Linked DNA regions of Homo sapiens. The protein of the gene in region 1 purifies or fractionates together with the protein of each later gene. This does not show direct contact. Each region holds a gene or a part of one and is shown in the gene's direction. Other genes may lie near its edges. The genes, in order: SERPINB6, XYLB, USP46, HK1 and YTHDF3.

The links.
Region 2: the proteins of SERPINB6 (region 1) and XYLB fractionate together in Homo sapiens (co-fractionation; one large-scale study listed by BioGRID). This does not show direct contact.
Region 3: the proteins of SERPINB6 (region 1) and USP46 purify together in Homo sapiens (co-immunoprecipitation; one large-scale study listed by IntAct). This does not show direct contact.
Region 4: the proteins of SERPINB6 (region 1) and HK1 purify together in Homo sapiens (co-immunoprecipitation; one large-scale study listed by IntAct). This does not show direct contact.
Region 5: the proteins of SERPINB6 (region 1) and YTHDF3 fractionate together in Homo sapiens (co-fractionation; one large-scale study listed by BioGRID). This does not show direct contact.

What each region holds. Positions count from the first base shown.
Region 1 is NC_000006.12:2,951,096-2,954,570, reverse strand, and holds part of SERPINB6 (serpin B6), read left to right. Parts: intron 1-1,384; coding exon 1,385-1,527; exon of another isoform or gene 1,528-1,531; intron 1,532-3,475.
Region 2 is NC_000003.12:38,345,414-38,349,602, forward strand, and holds the start of XYLB (xylulose kinase), read left to right. Parts: upstream 1-1,371; 5' UTR 1,372-1,455; coding exon 1,456-1,512; intron 1,513-1,519; exon of another isoform or gene 1,520-2,411; intron 2,412-3,133; exon of another isoform or gene 3,134-3,136; coding exon 3,137-3,219; intron 3,220-4,189. UniProt on the Homo sapiens protein: Phosphorylates D-xylulose to produce D-xylulose 5-phosphate, a molecule that may play an important role in the regulation of glucose metabolism and lipogenesis.
Region 3 is NC_000004.12:52,600,299-52,603,819, reverse strand, and holds part of USP46 (ubiquitin carboxyl-terminal hydrolase 46), read left to right. Parts: intron 1-1,765; coding exon 1,766-1,963; intron 1,964-3,521. UniProt on the Homo sapiens protein: Deubiquitinating enzyme that plays a role in behavior, possibly by regulating GABA action. May act by mediating the deubiquitination of GAD1/GAD67.
Region 4 is NC_000010.11:69,381,347-69,384,846, forward strand, and holds part of HK1 (hexokinase-1), read left to right. Parts: intron 1-1,140; coding exon 1,141-1,445; intron 1,446-2,986; coding exon 2,987-3,135; intron 3,136-3,449; coding exon 3,450-3,500. UniProt on the Homo sapiens protein: Catalyzes the phosphorylation of various hexoses, such as D-glucose, D-glucosamine, D-fructose, D-mannose and 2-deoxy-D-glucose, to hexose 6-phosphate (D-glucose 6-phosphate, D-glucosamine 6-phosphate, D-fructose 6-phosphate, D-mannose 6-phosphate and 2-deoxy-D-glucose 6-phosphate, respectively).
Region 5 is NC_000008.11:63,171,611-63,175,131, forward strand, and holds part of YTHDF3 (YTH domain-containing family protein 3), read left to right. Parts: intron 1-1,042; exon of another isoform or gene 1,043-1,130; coding exon of another isoform or gene 1,131-1,188; intron 1,189-2,040; exon of another isoform or gene 2,041-2,071; intron 2,072-3,521. UniProt on the Homo sapiens protein: Specifically recognizes and binds N6-methyladenosine (m6A)-containing RNAs, and regulates their stability. M6A is a modification present at internal sites of mRNAs and some non-coding RNAs and plays a role in mRNA stability and processing.

The sequences.
Region 1 (3,475 bases):
ACTTTTGTAATAACCTCTTAATCCATTTTATTGTCAGTTCCTTCACAAGACTGTCAATTGTAAACAGGAATGATTTTTTTTTCTCTGAATAACTGCAAACTTAAAAAATCTGCTTCTGAAATCAGTTGCCATTATTTGACATTTTGGAAATGCTCAATGTGTTCTGTTCTCTCTGATTTCTCCCTGTTTCCTTGGTGTACCCGTGATGCCTTTCAGTGTTTGGTATACCTCTTCTGGATCAATCCACGTTTTAATTTTGAGGAGGGGGTTAGTGTGTTAATGTTAATATAGTTTTTCCTTTCACAAGTAACATAAAAAATTCGCAGTGTGGATCTCAAGCTGCCTCCCTCTTGGGTAGCACAGTCTACAGTTGCCATGCATTGCTGTGGGACACTGGGTCACGCCCTGGTCTATCTGTGGTTCTTAATTTAAACTTTTTTTTTTTTTTTTTTTGAGACAAGGTCTCCCTCTGTCACCTAGGCTGGAATGCAGTGACACAATCACAATTCACTGCAGCCTCAATTTTCTTTTTTTTTCTTTGAGATGGAGTTTTGCTCTTATTGCCCAGGCTGGAGTGCAATGGTGCAATCTTGGCTCATTGCAACCTCTGCCTCCCAGGTTCAAGTGATTCTCCTATCTCAACCTCCCAAGTAGTTGGGATCACAGGCACGTGCCACCATGCCCTGCTAATTTTTGTATTTTTTAGTAGAGACAGGTTTTCACCATGTTGGCCAGGATGATCTCAATCTCTTGACCTCGTGATCCACCCGCCTTGGCCTCCCAAAGTGCTGGGATTACAGCATCAATTCTTGTGCTCAAGCGGTCCTCCTGCTTCAGTCTCCCAAGTAATTGGGACTACAGGTAGCACCACCATGCCCAGCTAATTTTAATAAATTTTTTTTTTAAGAGACAAGGCCTCACTATGTTGTCCAGGTTGGTCTCAAACTCCTGGCCTCAAGTGATCCTCACACCTCAGCCTCCCAAACTGCTGGAATTATAGGTGTGAGCCACTGTGTCTGGCCTAACTGTTCTTTAAGCTTGTAAAGAACATCTTCTGACTGCCCACCTTTTTGATAATCCTTTAAGTTCTTGTCTTTAAGTCATAGGCACCCATGATTGCTTCTTATCTCATGTGTTAGGAACTCATCCTGCATAATTAACGCATATTTGTTCACTTTGTGTGTTTTATTCAATTGATGATGTTTTTCGTACCAGAAGATTTTGTTGTTTTGCTTTAAGGACACGTATCCCTTTATATTTGGGGGACAGTGGAACTCTCTATCCGTGCACTTGACTGCTGAAGGAGAAGGCCCCAGCCGATTCCTGATGTGTCGGGGATCCGCAGCCGCCCCTATCTAATGCGGTCTTGAATTCTTCCGCTCAGGTAAAATTGCGGAGTTGCTCTCTCCGGGCTCAGTGGATCCATTGACAAGGCTGGTTCTGGTGAATGCTGTCTATTTCAGAGGAAACTGGGATGAACAGTTTGACAAGGAGAACACCGAGGAGAGACTGTTTAAAGTCAGCAAGGCGAGTAAGGGGCCGTGACAGGAGCAGCGCCTGTGTTCACACGAGCGTCTCCGGCTCGGGGCCTCCCGCGTCTGCAGCCGTGGGGCCTTTCTGTCCCTGCCCCTCCTGCTTGACATCCATTGGGTGGCCTCGTGTCCCTGGGCGCCTGGCATCCGCCCTGCCACCTACAGGGCAAGTCTGAAGCTGCAGCCCTCAGGCTCGATCAAGGTCTTAAAGCTCAGACTCCAGATATGGCGTGCCATCTTCTAGCGGACATTTCCTCCTTTTCTCTAGCTTCATTCCCATCAGGACCTACCCACTCCTTTCTTTCTGGCGGCGTCCCGGGAAGCCCCGCTACCGCGCCTCCTGCTGGCCTCCGTGCCACACTGCAGGAGCGGAACAACTCAGCCTGCTGAATTGAGGCTGAGCAGGGAGGACTCTCTGACAAGTGCCAGACACGTAGCTGGTGCTTAGTAAATGCTGAACCGATGAGTGATATTCAGTCCTCTCTTGATAGTAAGGATAAGTACAGATTTTTGTTTTAAAACAACCAAACCAAACATGTAGATAGACACTGAGATTAACCACCTCCAGCGTGGAAGATGTCATTTGCTGATGGCCCTTTATCTTCCTCTCACTGAATCTTCTTTATTGTCTCTTGTTTTGTTTTTCTTTAACTATAGAAATTTTTGAACATAGACAAAGTAAACAGAATAGATTAATTACAGTGTATTCTTGATCATTGACCATAGTTAGATCTTCCAGGCTAACTTGAACTTGAGCCTTCAGTTTTTCAAGAAATTTATTTTCATTGTCTGTTCTCCTCGCAATTCAGAAAGAATTATTTTCTTTGAAGCTTTATTCTGAAATGAACTGTGCTATTTTCCCCTGGCAAAATAATTTCTCTCTTTAAAATTTAATGATTAACAAGATGTACAAGGGCTTTGACTACAGATAACAGAAACCCCGGTTCACCATGGTTTATCTCCTAGGAGCTCATCTCCCCTGCTAGGAGGTCTGGAGGCAGGTGAGACCTGGGCTGGTCTGGCACTGGGGCGATGATCCCAGGGAGGCGGCTCCACCATTCTCAGCACGTCGCCTTCTTCCTCATGGTCACAAGATGGCTGAGCTGGCTTCAGCAGTCCCGGTGGCAGGGAGGGGGAGGAACAAGGGAGGGGAGGGGAGCCTAAACCTTCCCCTTAGTGGTTCTGCGTTTCAGAAAGGGAAAGCTGCTTTCTATATGGTGTAGGCCAGAACTATAGGTCTTGTGGGTTTGGGGAGATGTGGAATCCCGTCATGCTTTCTGAGTTCTGCAGTGAAGAAGGGTGAAGGAAGGGGCTGCAGTATTGAGCGTACCAGCCTGAGGCCAGAGGTGTACCTCCAAGGGCACAGATTTTGAGTTGATACAGATTCTTATTTTAATTTCATTACCTTCTATATAAACTGGAACTTGTCTATATAATTGTGTATTTAGTGAATCATTCAGTCACTAAGGTTAGATCTTTTTATATTGCAAGATTGGAGGCTTTGGACCCTGAAGGGGTGCAGGGAGGAATTACTGAAGGCAGGGGTCAGCAAACTTCAGCCTACAGCAAAGCCAGCCCACCACCTAATTTTTTTTAAAGGTTTACTGAAACACAGCCATGCTTATTTTTTTTTTTTATTTTTTATTTTTTCCAAGACAGAGTTTCTCTCTTGTTGCCCAGGCTGGAGTGCAGTGGTGCCATCTCGGAACACTGCAGCCTCCGCCTCCCGGGTTCAGGTGATTCTCCTGCCGTGGCCTCTTGAGTAGCTGGGATTACAGGTGTGTGCCACTATGCCCGGCTAATTTTTGCATTTTTAGTAGAGACGGGGTTTCACCATGTTGGTCAGGTTGGTCTCGAACTCCTGACCTCAGGTGATCCACCTGCCCGGGCCTCCCACAGTGCTGGGATTACAGGCGTGAGCCACCACGCCTGGCCCATGCTTA
Region 2 (4,189 bases), on another chromosome or scaffold:
ACTTGAACCCAGAAGGCAGAGGTTTCAATGAGCTGAAATCACGCCATTGCACTCCAGCCTGGGCAACAAGAGTGAAACTCCGTTTCAAAAAAAAAAAAAAATTAGCTGGGTGCGGTGGTGTGCGCCTGTAATCCCAGCTACATGGGAGGCTGAGGCAGAAGAATCAGTTGAACCAGGGAGGTGGAGGTTGCAGTGACCGGAGATCACGCCACTGCACTCCAGCCTGGGTGACAGGAGTGAAACTCTGTCAAAAAAAAAAAAAAAAGTCATCAAGCAGTTAAGATTAGATTAAAATGCAGTAATCTAATCTTAATTAGATTAGATACTTAGATACCTTTATTTAAAATTTTTTAAAAGTGGAGATAATAGTACCTACTTCCCAGCATCATTGTGACGATTAAATGTGCTCAGCAGGTTGCATAATTGTTTCTGATCTAGCTAGTATCCAGTATTTGTCTATTGTCACAGGTGGTGACTGCTGGAGGGGCTGAGTCCCCAATAAGCTGTGAATGTCTTGGAGGACAAGTATGTTGGCCCCTTCTTGTTCTAGCAGTGAAGAGGATCCCATGTAGACTCCAAGCAGCTCAAGTTCAGCAAGGGAGACAGACCATTGCAAGTGCATGAAAAGGGCACTGGTGGGCTGGGAAGTTCGTAGGAGGAGCCTCTCACATGCTGGGTTTGGGGAGGAATTCTGGAAAGCAGTTAGTCTTAGGGACGGGAAGGATGTAGCTGGTGGGACAGGCGCCCTCAGCTCCATGAATAAAAGGAGTGGGTCTGACTCTGGTTCTCATTCCCCTTTACCATGCCTGGCACACATTAGACCATCAATACCAATTGACTCCAGGAAGGAGTGTCTCCCCGTGGGGGCATCAGGAGCCGCTGAGTTTAAATACACAGGTGGGATGTGACACACTGGGAACCATTCAGATTTGCTGGATCTGGATAGGGCTTGTCAGGACTCAGTGCTTCCAACCCCAGGGCCCATTTCCCTGTGGCCCCTGAGTCACCACCATGGGTGGACAGCTGCTCCAGTGCCAAGATACAGCCACAGAGGACGGCAGGCCCAGGGCCTCCAGAAGGACAGGCAGGCTCCCTCTGAAAGACAAGCCGGCTTATAGCTGAAACCTCTGGCCCAGGCGTCCTCTAAGGGAAGCCAGGCGGTGTCAGGGCACGGCCCATGAAGACATAAGATGAAGATGGGGAGAACCAGAGGGGGTGCGCTTCGAAGGAAAGCGGGCTGCGTGGGGGCACCGTCGATTGCACAGGACGCGGTCCCGGCTCGCGTAGCCCCGCAGGCGGCGCCAGAGCGCAAGCCCGCCTCGTGACTCCGGTCCACAGTCCGGCCGGGCGGAGCTAGGGGCGGGCCCCTGCGTCTCTGGGCGCTGGAGCGCGGCGACTATCACGCCGCGTGGCGGACGGACGGACTGACGGACGCGCAGCCTTACCCGAAAGGCCATGGCGGAGCACGCCCCTCGCCGCTGCTGCCTGGGCTGGGACTTCAGCACGCAGCAGGTACAGTCGCCTGGCCGCAGGGCCACGGGGCCGCCTCCTCCGCTTCGGTGGGGGTAGGGGGCGGGCTGTCACCCGGACGCGGGAAAACATGGGCCCGGCCGCGGGCGCGCCTACCTCTCGGGCTTCCCGGGGCCCCCGCGCCCCTGCCCTGCGCGCGGCCGTGGGGCGCCGGTGCCCTCGCCCGGAGATGCCCTGCCAATGCCACCCGCTCGCAAGATGCGGCCTCGACCCCGCCTGGACCCAGCTACCCCAGGAAACTGCAGGCGCTCCTCGGCAGGACCCCCGGTGCCCAGAGGGGCCGGAGGACTCGGCGGGTTCCTGCGCTGTTCTGGGCACCCAGTGACGGGGATCCGAAGGAAGTCAGCTACTGTAAGGCAGGGGAACAGACAGGCGGGTAGCCCTGCGCACATGCACAACCAGTGACCTGGAAGCAGATTATAGCCCAAAACCTTTTTTTAAAAATTGAAATGGCCCAGGCCTGGTGGCTCTTGCCGGTAATCCCAGCACTTTGGGAGGCCGAGGCGAGTGGATCGCTTGAGCCCAGGAGTTCGAGACCAGCCTGGGCAATATGGAGAAACCCCGGTCTCTACCAGAAAATACAAAAATTAGCCGGGCATGGTGGAGCACACCTGTAGTCCCAGTTTTTCTGGAGGCTGAAGCGGATCGCTTGAGCCCAGGAGGTGGAGATTGCAGTGAGCTAAGATGGCGTCACCGGTCTCCAGCCTGGGCGACAGAACGGGACCCTGTCTCAAAAAAAAAAAAAGAAAAAAGTGAAATGCATAGTGTACAAGTGGACTTTACCCTGTGACCGCCCTTCGTTGACACCAGCTTGCCTGGTCTGTGCACCCAGGACTGCTGGCCAGAGGAGCAGTGTGCTGCTGCCAACGCCCTGCAGACAGGCAAGCAAATCAAAATTTGCCTTCAAAGAGGGCATGGGGTGACCGGGGGCACCTTTTCCTTTAAAGTACTTGGGAAATATACACAGTTGCAGTCAAACCCCTCTTCTCGAATGGGTCAAGGGAGGCAGGCCTCTGGCCAGTCCTTGGGGGAACGTCCTGTGGGACTCTGGATGACTCGAGTTGCCTTGCTGGACCTCAGTTTTCCCATCTGTCCAGGAAAGGAGTTATACTCCCAAGCTTGGAGATTGCTTCAGTGGGACATTAATGTCTCTGGACCACAATCATGGCCTGTGAGAATAGCCCATGGCCTTGCCTGGTCTCAGGCCTCTGCAGACATGGATCCCCAGAGATGCCTCCAAACCTTGCTTCCCATTCCTTCCTCTCTGGCACTTTCTCCCGCCTCCTTGTCAGGTGCACGAACCAACTCATCTGTGAACATCTTCCTCTAGAGGGTCTTGGCTTTGGCTATTTGGGGAACAAAGATTCCTTGAGACATGTGGGTGTTCCTACTTAGCCTCAGTTTCTTCATTTTACTAAATCTTTGAGTGTTACCCCAGATGAGTCCTCTGTTACCACGATTACGGTGAGGCAGCCCTGCCTTCAAGGAGGTCTCTAGGTTGAACTGCTCCTAGGGTGTGGGGCCTCATCTGGTGACGTTAGTACCCCCTGGACCAGTGTAGAAGCTGAGGAAAATTCTACACTTCCTTTTTTAAAATGCCTTTCAGGTAAAGGTTGTTGCTGTTGATGCAGAGTTGAATGTCTTCTATGAGGAAAGTGTGCATTTTGACAGAGATCTTCCAGAATTTGGGTATGTACTTGATGTGCATGTGTGTGTGATGGGGGTGTTGGTTTTGGGGTCCTCCCGCAAACTTTTGTATTCGCAGACCGCACTGTTGAGGCTTTGCCAAATACAGGAGTGGTGGTCTCGGCAGACCTTTCAAGCATCTTTTTTTCCTATACCTAGAGTGCCATCTCCCCCATTTCTTCCTAATTCCATTCATCCATTCATGAAGTAAGCATCAGTTGAGACCTACTTTGTGCCAGGTGCTAGGACCTGATGGCGAAACAAAAAGAGAAAGCTCTCCCAGAGCTTCCCACTGAGTAGTGGAGACTGGTATCAAACAAAGAATCTCACAAAAGAGTGTTTCATTATAAACTCTGAGAAGGCCTCTGAAGGAAAGGAACTCACTTCTCCAAGTGCTTATTATAAAGGAATGTGACTCAGACTTGGGAGGGGAAGTCCCAGAGCGTCTCTAGGGAAGTGGTGCTTAAGCTAGAGATCAGAGTGAGTGAAGTTAGCCAAGCGATGGAAGGGAAGTTGGCCAGGTGATGGAAGAGCATTCCAGGCAGAAGGAACAACATGTGCGAGGGCCCTGTGGCAAGAAAGAGCATGGTTCATTCCTTCATGCAATTGAAGAAAGCCAATGATGCTGGGGAGCAGAGAGAGGCGGAGGCTGGTCAGAGCTCCATAGGCCATGGTATAGAGTTTGTCTTTATTCTAAAAGCTATGGTCAGCCACTAAGGGCCATAAGGGGTAGGGGTATGGGTGAGGTATGAATGACAGGTTGTATTTTTGTTTTGAAAATATCTCTCTGGGGGCATTGGGAGAACAGATTCGGAGCATTGCTGGAATGGACGTGGGGAACTATTAAAGAGGTTTTTGCTGGTCATTCAGGTATGAAATGATGGATAGGAGAGAGCTGAGTAGTAAAATGGACAGGTCCTGTTACAAAATTGAATGTGAGATGTAAGGGTGGGATTTCTGGCTGTCCTTCAGA
Region 3 (3,521 bases), on another chromosome or scaffold:
CCACCTACTCGGGAGGCTGAGGCAGGAGAATCACTTAAGCCCAGGAGGCAGAGGTTACAGTGAGCTGAGATCGTACTACTGCACTCCAGCCTGGGTGACAGAGTGAGACTCTGTATCAAAAAAAGAAAAAAGAAAAAGAACAGGTGATAAGAAAGTTAGAAAGTTATTGCACCACCTTTCCTGCACACTAGACAGTTACAGTTCTTGGAAAATCTGGAATAACCCCCATTAATCTGCTCCTACAAGCCAGGAAAGTTGCCATTTCAGTCATCCTGCGAAGGCTTCCTGTGAGTTAAATCTATCTTGTCAGTGGTTCTGGAGTATTCAAGGCAGCTGGCAGATGCTCAATACTGCTGTCTAAAACCCTCAGGGGTCTAGACCTGAGGTTGAGATCATTTCTCTGCCCAGCCTTCCCAGGCGTTCACTCCAAACATGTACACTTTTCTTTGCTGCAAAACTTACAGATGGTTAGTCACCTTAGCGGGCAGTCCTCAAGGAGGTAGGTAGATACCTTTTGTTAGTAAAGAAGGTCACTCATGTCTGTCCCCCATCCTTATAACCTCAATCTGCCTAAGGCTGGCCTGGGGTCTTCCTTTGTGGCATTAAGACATTTTTTGTTCAGCCCTGGGGGGTTTATATATTGCAATGTCATGTGTTCCCATAAAACATGGGGTTCCCCATACTTCTTATTTCTCTACTGTTGTTTTACTTGCTTATTTATATGAACAGGGCTTTTCCTTAATAGATTCCTTAAAACTATTCTTCTAAAATTTGTCTTTTTCACATACTATGCATTAAAAATGTACACAAACTAAATGGCATTTACACTTAATTCAGTACATTCATGGAATGGGGGCTGGAAGGTAACTGGAAGACCCTCTATTCTAGCAGTGTACTCTGCATAAACTGTTGCCTTTGCGACTTTTTACTGAGAAATGTTAATGGTCACCTAGTAAAAAAACTTTTCTATGTTTATATAAGTTTGGGAAGTGCAACATCAAACAACAGAACAATTCCTTTACTGCAGGATTTCTCAAAGTCTTCAGTCTGGTAATGTACACATAGGATCTTCAAAGCAGAAAGTAGCATCATCCAAACTTACTTAGCCACAGAAACACCACATCTGTTAACATCTCCAGTGCTCTCCTGAGCCCAGTTTGTGAAATGTAGCCCTAAGCCAACCCCTGCATTTTATAAATAAGGAAACTGAGAGCTAGAGAAGGGAAGTGACTTGCCCAAGATCACAAGGGTCGGAATGAGAGTGAGCCTGGCACGCTTGGTGTCCCGATGCCCAAGAGTGTGTGTCAGAAGCATCCATCCTCCTGCCAGTCCTCAGAACCTGTAAGTCCAGCAGTCGGCATCATCTACCTTGTCCTCTTCCCAGCTTCCTGTTCTCAAAAGCTCTCAACCTTCCTCTCCATCATCTCAGGGGGTAGATTGTCCAAATATCATTTCTCTCTGGAAGGCACAGGGCAGTGATGGAGAACAATTGCACAGCCTATTTTTATTTGTACAAAAATTCTGGAACGTCTCCTTCCAACAAACAGACACACACCATTGTACATTTCTCCTGCTGGGAGCCAGGGATGTAGGATAAGTCAGCTCTATATATGCCAGCATACTTTTATCCTTGCAAACTGTTTGGTTGTTTGCTGGTTTGAAGTTGGATAGAACCTCCTACTATTCTGTTTGTGCAGATGACAGTGTATTCTCTTCCCCTAATAGGTGTTGGGTACAACTGATTTTCTATTTCTTGGTTTCTTAGGATGAGGGTAAAAAAGCTGCCCATGATCTTGGCCCTGCACCTAAAGCGGTTCAAGTACATGGAGCAGCTGCACAGATACACCAAGCTGTCTTACCGTGTGGTCTTCCCTCTGGAACTCCGGCTCTTCAACACCTCCAGTGATGCAGTGAACCTGGACCGCATGTATGACTTGGTTGCGGTGGTCGTTCACTGTGGCAGGTAAGGGCAAGACTGGAAGCAGGTATACAGGGTAAGTGTAAGGGTTGCCTCTTCGCTGAAGTATACCCAGCTGCACCTTTCCTGGGCCGTGGCACTCAATAGTTTTGGGATCTCTGCCAAACTCTTACTGATCATCACAAAAAATATATAAACATGCCTGCAGGCACATAAAATAAAGAGCATTCCAGTAATGATAATCTAAATGTTCTATCATGAGAGAAATTACTTAATAAATCTCCATTGCATGAAAACGATGGTTATGAAGAATTTGAAATAACATGGAGAAATAAATGTCTATGCTATGATTTTAATTTTTAAAAAGCCAAGTTGCATTTACAGTATGATCTCAAAAGTATTTTAAGATGTGTAAATAAAGACTAGAAGCAATGGATCAAATTTAATAATTTTTTGGCACTTTGAGTGATTAAAAATATATTCTTAAAAAATATTCTTTGTTATTTTTGGTCTTTCCCCAACATTCTGTAATAAGTATATAATCAGAAAAAAGATAAGAGAGAGAAGGCCTCTAGATATGGAGAGGCAAAGCATTTTGCCAAAATTCCTTTGAGCAGCTATTTTTTATTCCATAATTTGGTATAAGGGAAGAAAAGTATCTTGAAAATTCACCTGTTTGTTATTCTTTGCTCAGTTGGGACAGGTTTATGTTCTGTCTTGGGAGTAGGCACAGCTTTCCCCCTGCCCTCATAGGTTTTAGATTGGGGCATGTCATAGAGCAAGAGTCTTTCTCCTCCATCTGTTAAGGTCGGATTATGGTGAATACACCATTACCAGGAGACTACCATTGCCACGCAGAGGAATAGGTTGATATATTTTTAATTGTGTACTAGGGTAGATGGCATCAGAAACTGTATAACTTCACATCTGAAGCACCCCATATTTTATCCTGTGTGTATTAACTTTAAGTCACTGGATATTTTCTTGTATTCTCAGTAAAATGATATTTATTGGCTAGTTATATGCCAGTTTTGTGGTGTTCTCCCTAAAGAACACCTGTTATTCTTTTGAAGAACACAGGGTTCCAGTGATCTGGAACCCAGCCTTGAGCACTGGATGAGGCCTCACATTGGTGCAGGGTTGGGGAAGATCTTAGGGCAGGCAGAGCCTGGGACCTGGTGGGCATTGTGGCTAAAGTGGGTGGCAGGGGTGGTGTGGACAGGAGGGCCCCTTGCACAGGGTACACAGGACTTTCAGTGTGGGTCTCTGTGGGTGCCCAATTCAAATCCTTGGGAGGACTGGCAGAGACACAGGTAAGGGAACTGGACGTTCAGCGGGAGGTTGGGTTCTCTAAGGTCAGTTTCTGTAATGTGAGCACAAGGTCAGAAGAGCCCTGGTAGCAGAGCTCAGTTGGTGCCAAGTCATGCATGCCACTAACTAGGATTCTTCAAACTCCTCCCCACAGAAGTAGCATTGTTCTCCTATGTGGAGCAGGGCTGGCCTATGCTTGCGGATTGGGTGGCTTCCAGGTAGCACTGGAAAGCTTTGAGGTTAGGGAGCTGGGCCTGCCTTCCCTTCCATGCCAGGACCTCCTGGCCCACAG
Region 4 (3,500 bases), on another chromosome or scaffold:
CGTAATTGTATTTTTAAAATATTTTTAAAGTATTTGCAAAAATCTTGATAATGAAACTTTTATTAGCCATTTCTTTCTTTTTTCTTTGTAATTTCTTGGCTAATTTTTTGGACAAGAAAGCCTAGGGATTTGCAGCATCACATTAGAATTTTTTTAGATTGTGGTAAAATACACATAACATGAAGTATATCATCTTAACCTTTTTTTTTTTTTTTTTTTGAAGGCAGGGTCTTGCCCTGTTGCCCAGGCTGGAGTGGAGCGGAGTGGTGTGCTCTCAGCTCACTGCAACCTCTGCCTCCCAGGTTCCAGCAATTCTCCTGCCTCAGCCTCCCGAGTAGCTGGAATTACAGGCATCTGCCACCATACCCAGCTAATTTTTGTATTTTTAGTAGAGACGGGGTTTCACCATGTTGGCCAGACTGGTCTTGAACTCCTGACCTCAGGTGATCCACCTGCCTTGGCCTCCCAAAGTACTGGGATTACAGGCATGAGCCACCTCGCACTTGGCCCCATCTGACTTTTGAACACCGTGCTTTTGACCACTGTGCTGTATTATCTTCCTGTCATGGTGGAGGGCAAAATCTTTTTAGACCTGGAATTTTTTGTATGTGATACTCATGTAATAATGAGAGTCTTCTCTTTTTATGTGTGATTATGAACGATTTCATTTTTCCTTTTTACCTCTCTGCATTTGCTAACTTTTCTACAGTGGATGTATATGATTTGTGTAATGAAAAAAGCAGGTGCAGAAAATGGAATTAGGCTGGGCACAGTGGCCCATGCCTGTAATCCCAGCACTTGGGAAGCTGAGGCGGGTGGATAGCTTGAACCTAGAAGTTTGAGACCAGCCTGGGCAACATGGCGAAACCCTGTCTCTACTAAAAATACAAAAAAGTTAGCCGGGCGTGGCCCCAGCTACTCGGGAGGCTAAGGTGGGAGGATCACCTGAACCTGGGAGGTTGAGGCAGCAGTGAGCTGTGATTGTGCCATTGCACTCCAGCCTGGGTGACAGAGCAAGACCCTGTCTCAAAAAAAAGGAAAAGAAAAAAGAGTTAAAGAGTGGAGAAAGAAAGGGTGGCCGGAGGTCCCCAATAAATGCTCAGTCCAGCTGTTGTGGAATGTCCCCCCTGCCCCCATAAGGTATTCCCGGCGTTTCCACAAGACTCTAAGGCGCTTGGTGCCAGACTCCGATGTGCGCTTCCTCCTCTCGGAGAGTGGCAGCGGCAAGGGGGCTGCCATGGTGACGGCGGTGGCCTACCGCTTGGCCGAGCAGCACCGGCAGATAGAGGAGACCCTGGCTCATTTCCACCTCACCAAGGACATGCTGCTGGAGGTGAAGAAGAGGATGCGGGCCGAGATGGAGCTGGGGCTGAGGAAGCAGACGCACAACAATGCCGTGGTTAAGATGCTGCCCTCCTTCGTCCGGAGAACTCCCGACGGGACCGGTGAGGGCCTGCTGGGGGCTGACATGCCTGTCCTGCTCCTGCCAGGAACTGAGCCGCAGTGGGGGAGGTTGGATTCGCCAGTGGATGCCTTCACACTGGTGATGCACGATTTTGCCAGAGCTAGAAACTCCCTCACATCTCTGTTTTCCATTTTTATTAACTGATTTGTCATGTGTGTGACTCAGGGCAGTTTAATTTTCCTGGTCAGACCTCCCAGGCAAGTGCTATCTCTAAAACCACAGCCCTGCTCAGAACAGTGCTCTTAGCTGGGCAAGGTGACACACGCCTGTCATCCAGCTACTTAAGAGGCTGAGGTGGGAGGACTGCTTGAGCCCAGGAGTTCAAGACCAGTCTGGGCAACATAGCAAGACCCTGTCTCAAAAAAAATTAAATGAATAAAAAAGAAGTGTTCTTAAAAGCTGGGCAAATCCCACAGCACTGATTAGGTTTTCCCAAAGCCAAGGAAAGCCAGCAGAAGGATAAACACTCAGTGTACCCTTCTTAAATCTTGATAGAGTATGCATGAGGCATTCAGGGCCTGGGGAGTTTCGCATTCAGGCAAATTGTAGAACAAAATCCAACCCTTTATGCTAACCTTGGTAGTTTTCACTGGAGCTGATCATTATGGGGAATCTGAAGAGCTTTTCAGGTGGGTCCTTGGAGTAACGAATGTTTGTGACAGGAATGTGTCCTATGTGTAAGTTACCTAATACCACATTATAAGCCACCCTCACACTTAGTGGCTTAAAACAACCACGCTTTATTATTGTTCATGCATCTGTGGGTCAGTTGGACAGTTCTGCTCATCAGGGCCAGGATTGGCTGACCTCTGCCGGCCTCATTCCTGCATCTGCAGTCAGCTGTTGAGTCAGCTGGGAGGCAGATCTCAGACGCCCTTCCCCACATGTCCAGCAGTTGGCTGTCAGCTGGGGTGCAGGGGCCCCTGGCCCTGTGTCTCATCCTTCAGTGGGCCACCTGGCTGTTCAAGTGGTGGCAGCAAGGGCTGCGAGGGAGAGGGGAAGACTTCAAAGCCTCCTGGAAGCCCAGGCTGGGGATAGGTTCAGCTTTGCCTCTGCCACACTCTGTTGGCCTGAACAATCCTAGGGCTGGGCTAGATCCCAGGGGAGGAGAAATTGACTCCATGTTTCAGTGGGAGGAACTGCAGTCATGTTGCAAAGAAGGATTTTGCACATGCAGGGAAGGGAATGATGCAGCTGTTTTTGCAAATACCCCACACCTTGACATAAATTATTATTTTTTGTAGGAGATTTTCATTGTTGCAGCCCTGGTGAAGTCTGTGTATTGTGACAGGTGGTTTACTCACATGCTCTCCTCCCAGTGTGGCTCCAAGTCTGTGGTGGTCAGAGATGTGGTGCCCACTCTTCCTCTGAGTCTGTGCTGTGTCCTAAAGGGAGGAGTTGCAGCTTCTCCTCTATGTTTGCTATGGGGTTCTCCCCTTGAAAGTCTGGAGTCTTGGGGTTACTGGCTGCCAAGAGGCACTTAGCTGTTTTTGACATTCTTTACGCTTTTGACTGCAACAGAGAATGGTGACTTCTTGGCCCTGGATCTTGGAGGAACCAATTTCCGTGTGCTGCTGGTGAAAATCCGTAGTGGGAAAAAGAGAACGGTGGAAATGCACAACAAGATCTACGCCATTCCTATTGAAATCATGCAGGGCACTGGGGAAGAGGTGAGATTACAAAACCATAGTGCATGTGCACTGCACACACGGCCAGTGGCACCGGCAGTCACGTGATGACCAAAATCCGCCACGGGGTGCCCACATGGATTTGTGTCCTTGTGGCCCAGAAGCACCAGATGCTTTTTGCCATGCCTGGCTTGTGACACTCTGGTGGCTGAGAAGATTCTGGAAAAGGAGGCTCACTCTGCATGTGTGTGGGGTGTGTTTTCCTACGTGTGTGTGTGTATACACACTTTGGTCCATGTGCACTGATAAAATTAAAACCACAGAGAGCACGGGCGATCCTTTCTTTTCCCCTGCAGCTGTTTGATCACATTGTCTCCTGCATCTCTGACTTCTTGGACTACATGGGG
Region 5 (3,521 bases), on another chromosome or scaffold:
TATAAGTAGCTATGTGTGTATTTGAGAAAAGCTTTTCTGCCTTAGCTTGTTCCCAGCTCGTAAAATTGTTTTACAATTCTGTTTACTTTCATGAAGTTATTTTTCTTGAACTGCAACCTCAGTATTCTAAATATGAGTAATCTTGAATTCTGAACTTAGCAAGCTTATGAAAAATAGTATGTCCTTGAGAAGTTGGTGTCAGTTAAAGTTTTGAACACGTAATCCTTTTCAGTCAACTTACTATAATTTCAGAGATCCTGTTTCTTTTCTGAATTGTCTTTAGTTGACAGCTTTAGCCTAACACCTAGTTTTAGTGTCTTTGATTTTCTATATATCCTTAATTACTTAATTCATTACAGAAGCCAAAAGGAATTCTAAATAATTGTCTTTGATATGGCAAAAATGTTTTTTGTAGAATAAGTAATAATTCAAGGTTTACTTGTTTTATAAGTTTGAATTCTTTTTTAATTAAGTCTGTCCCTGTGTTAAATATCAGAACTCTTTATTATCCTTGGCAAGAGTAGTACCAAAGGATAGTAGAAATTTAAGGATAATTATTTGCCTATTGGTTCATAATTTAACACTTCGTATTTTATTTTTTTATTAAGTAGAATTTTTGCTTATTGGAATAAAGGTGTGCAGTACTTTTATTTGGGAGTACTATGGTTGGAAGTGTCAGATGCCATACTTACAGTCTTAGGCCTTACTGCCTCCTTTCTCCTCTAAGTTTATAAATAGCAAATTCATGGAACAGGATTTATCTTTTTCCTCCTCTCCGCTCTCTTCCAACGGAGAGACGTATGCATTGTTTTATACAACTGTAATTTAAAATAATTAGGTTAAATTTGGCTAAGTTTTAATTTTCGAAAAGTAGTGGAAAATGCCTTATATTTTGGCAATATTCTGTTGTATTCTCTCCTCGTCCTCCCGAGAAATGATTTCAAAGCACTTTACTATCATTATTTTAGGCTTCATTTTATCAATCCTCACAACATCCTTGTAAGGAGATAGCGGGTATATGGTATTGTCGCTGTTTTTGTAGGTGGGGAAACATGATGCACAGATCTGTTGACTTTCCTAACTTGATGTAGTCAGGACCAGAGCAAAGAATCACCTGGCTCCTAAGGCCCATGTTCTATCTTGATTTGACTCTGTTTCATAGAGCAGAGGAAACAGGCGAAGAATCATGTAAGTCATCTGTTCTTTTTACCCCTGAAGAAATTTTACAGACTATGGAACTAGCTTGGATTTCATTTCTATTTAATGGTTTTCAGACTCCAAGACATTAGCTTGTCATTAAGTAAATATTCAAAAACGAAAGTCTTTAAGATAGTTTTCTTTAAGATACACTTCCAAAACTTAAGGGCTAGTTTAATGCAAATTGCTTCTCGGTATATGTGAAGTACTTTTAATTAAACATTTTTTAAAGTAGATTGACTTTTTGTACTATATTTTAAGACTTTATAGACATTTATGCATCATTTAAAAATGACCGTAGACTGTATTTATAATAGTATATGGGTTGTTCTCAGGCCTAGCCTCTTAGAAGAGAAATAATAGAACAAAAAAAATAAGAATAACAGGATTATATTTATATATATATACAGATAAATTTTAAGTAAGTACTTTTTCCTTTTTTTTTTTTTAAATAGAGGCAGAGTCTCACTCTGTACCCCAGGCTGGAGTGCAGTGGCATAATCATAGCTCAGTGTAACCTGGAATGCCTTGGCTCAAGTGATCCTCCTTAGACTCCTGAGTAACTAGGACTATAGGCACATGCCACCACTCCTGGCTAATTTCTAAACATTTTTCGTAAAGGTGGGATCTTGCTGTGTTGCCCAGGCTGGTCTTGAGCTCCTGGCCTGGCACTTTTTGTATTTGTATGAACTAGATTTTCGAGAACCTAGTGGATATGAGAGATAGTTAGTCATAATTTTTAAGTTGTTAGCTGTTTCAAATACTGACTAACATGTATGAGTGTAATAGTGAAGAATTTTTTTTCAAGAAGTAATAGACCATGCATACTTACCTTTGATTTAGGAGCAGTAAAGCCAGTGTCAGAGGAGAACAGGTATGTCAGAATCTCTTGGACTGAAATGAATAACCCAGCCTTATAATGGCACTAGAAGTAACCTAAGGCACCCTCTTTATTTTGGTTTCTAGTGGCTATTACATATTTAAATTCCATGGAGCATATTTAGCTCAATCCTAGTTCTGATGCAGTCCTTATCAGACATAGTTAAATTATGTTAGTGGAGCCAGGATCAAGTTGACCTTCAGGTTGCTTCTTGTGGCCTCTGAGGGGCAGTGTGGTGTAGTAAGAAGTCTACTTTGAATGCTTTACACAGTAACATCATATCTTTGATCTTTGCCACTCATTGGATGGCAAAGATTTAAGGGATTTTGTATATCTTTGCTCCCAAGCCACTGTTAACTCATAATATTACATTTTAGGTGCTCTACACTCATGGGAAAATTTAAGGATAATAAAAATGTTATATTACAGAGGAATACGCAATTTAAACCCGTCACCCTCCTAACTTCATAAAATTTGGTGATGTTGTACCTTTGAGCAGTAAATCTTTAGATACTGAGTTCTTTTTGTTTCTAATTTGTAGACATCCATCGGAAACTTTCAACTTTATCTTCACTAGTATAGAATAGTATATTTACATAGTGCCACCTCATCAAGTATTAGCTTAGTAACACTTCTGTTTAAATGGTTCTAAAGTCATATTAGTCCTATTTGGATCTTGTAATATTTAATGTGATTACATTTAAGATTATTGAACACTGTCATTTAATAATCAGATGAGATGAGGTAGGTACTATTCATACATAACCTTCTGAAACAGCGAACAGTCAAAGGTTAGAGAGTTTAAATCCCTAACTGGAGATCATCTCCTCAGTGCTGGACTTGAGATTCAAATTCGGGACCTTACTTCTGAGTCTGCTCAAAAGCACTCTGAAACAGCATCCAGAGAATAACAACTTTAGAGTGTTTATGGAGATGACCTTTGAACAAAATTATTCTCTGACTTGTTTCTCATGTATTGCAAGGATAATTATGGCTATCTTTTGTGTCTTAATTTTGTTTGTAGTTTCATGTGAAAGTCTTCATTCTGGGGGGCTTAGAATTAAAGCCCTCTTTATTTAGATATTTCATAATTATAAGTCTATTCATTGTGATATTGTTTCAAGTTAATTTTAGCCTAAACTTTACTGGAGACATTTAAGACATTTACTATAACAAATTAGATCGAAAATAGTTATTTCATTCTTTATTATACTAAATAATTTAGAGATTTAAACAAAGGTAGAGAACATTCAGAAATCTTTTTTATTGCCTACAACGCTACTTGAAATAGTTATTTTACATTCAAATATAGCATTAGGGAACTCTTTCCAACATTCTTATGTAACAATTTACTCACTACAGTGTTGAGATTGGGATATTTACTTAAAGTTTTTGGTAAGGGGAAGTGTATATATGGCTTGTGTTTATGTAATCTTGGGCTTAT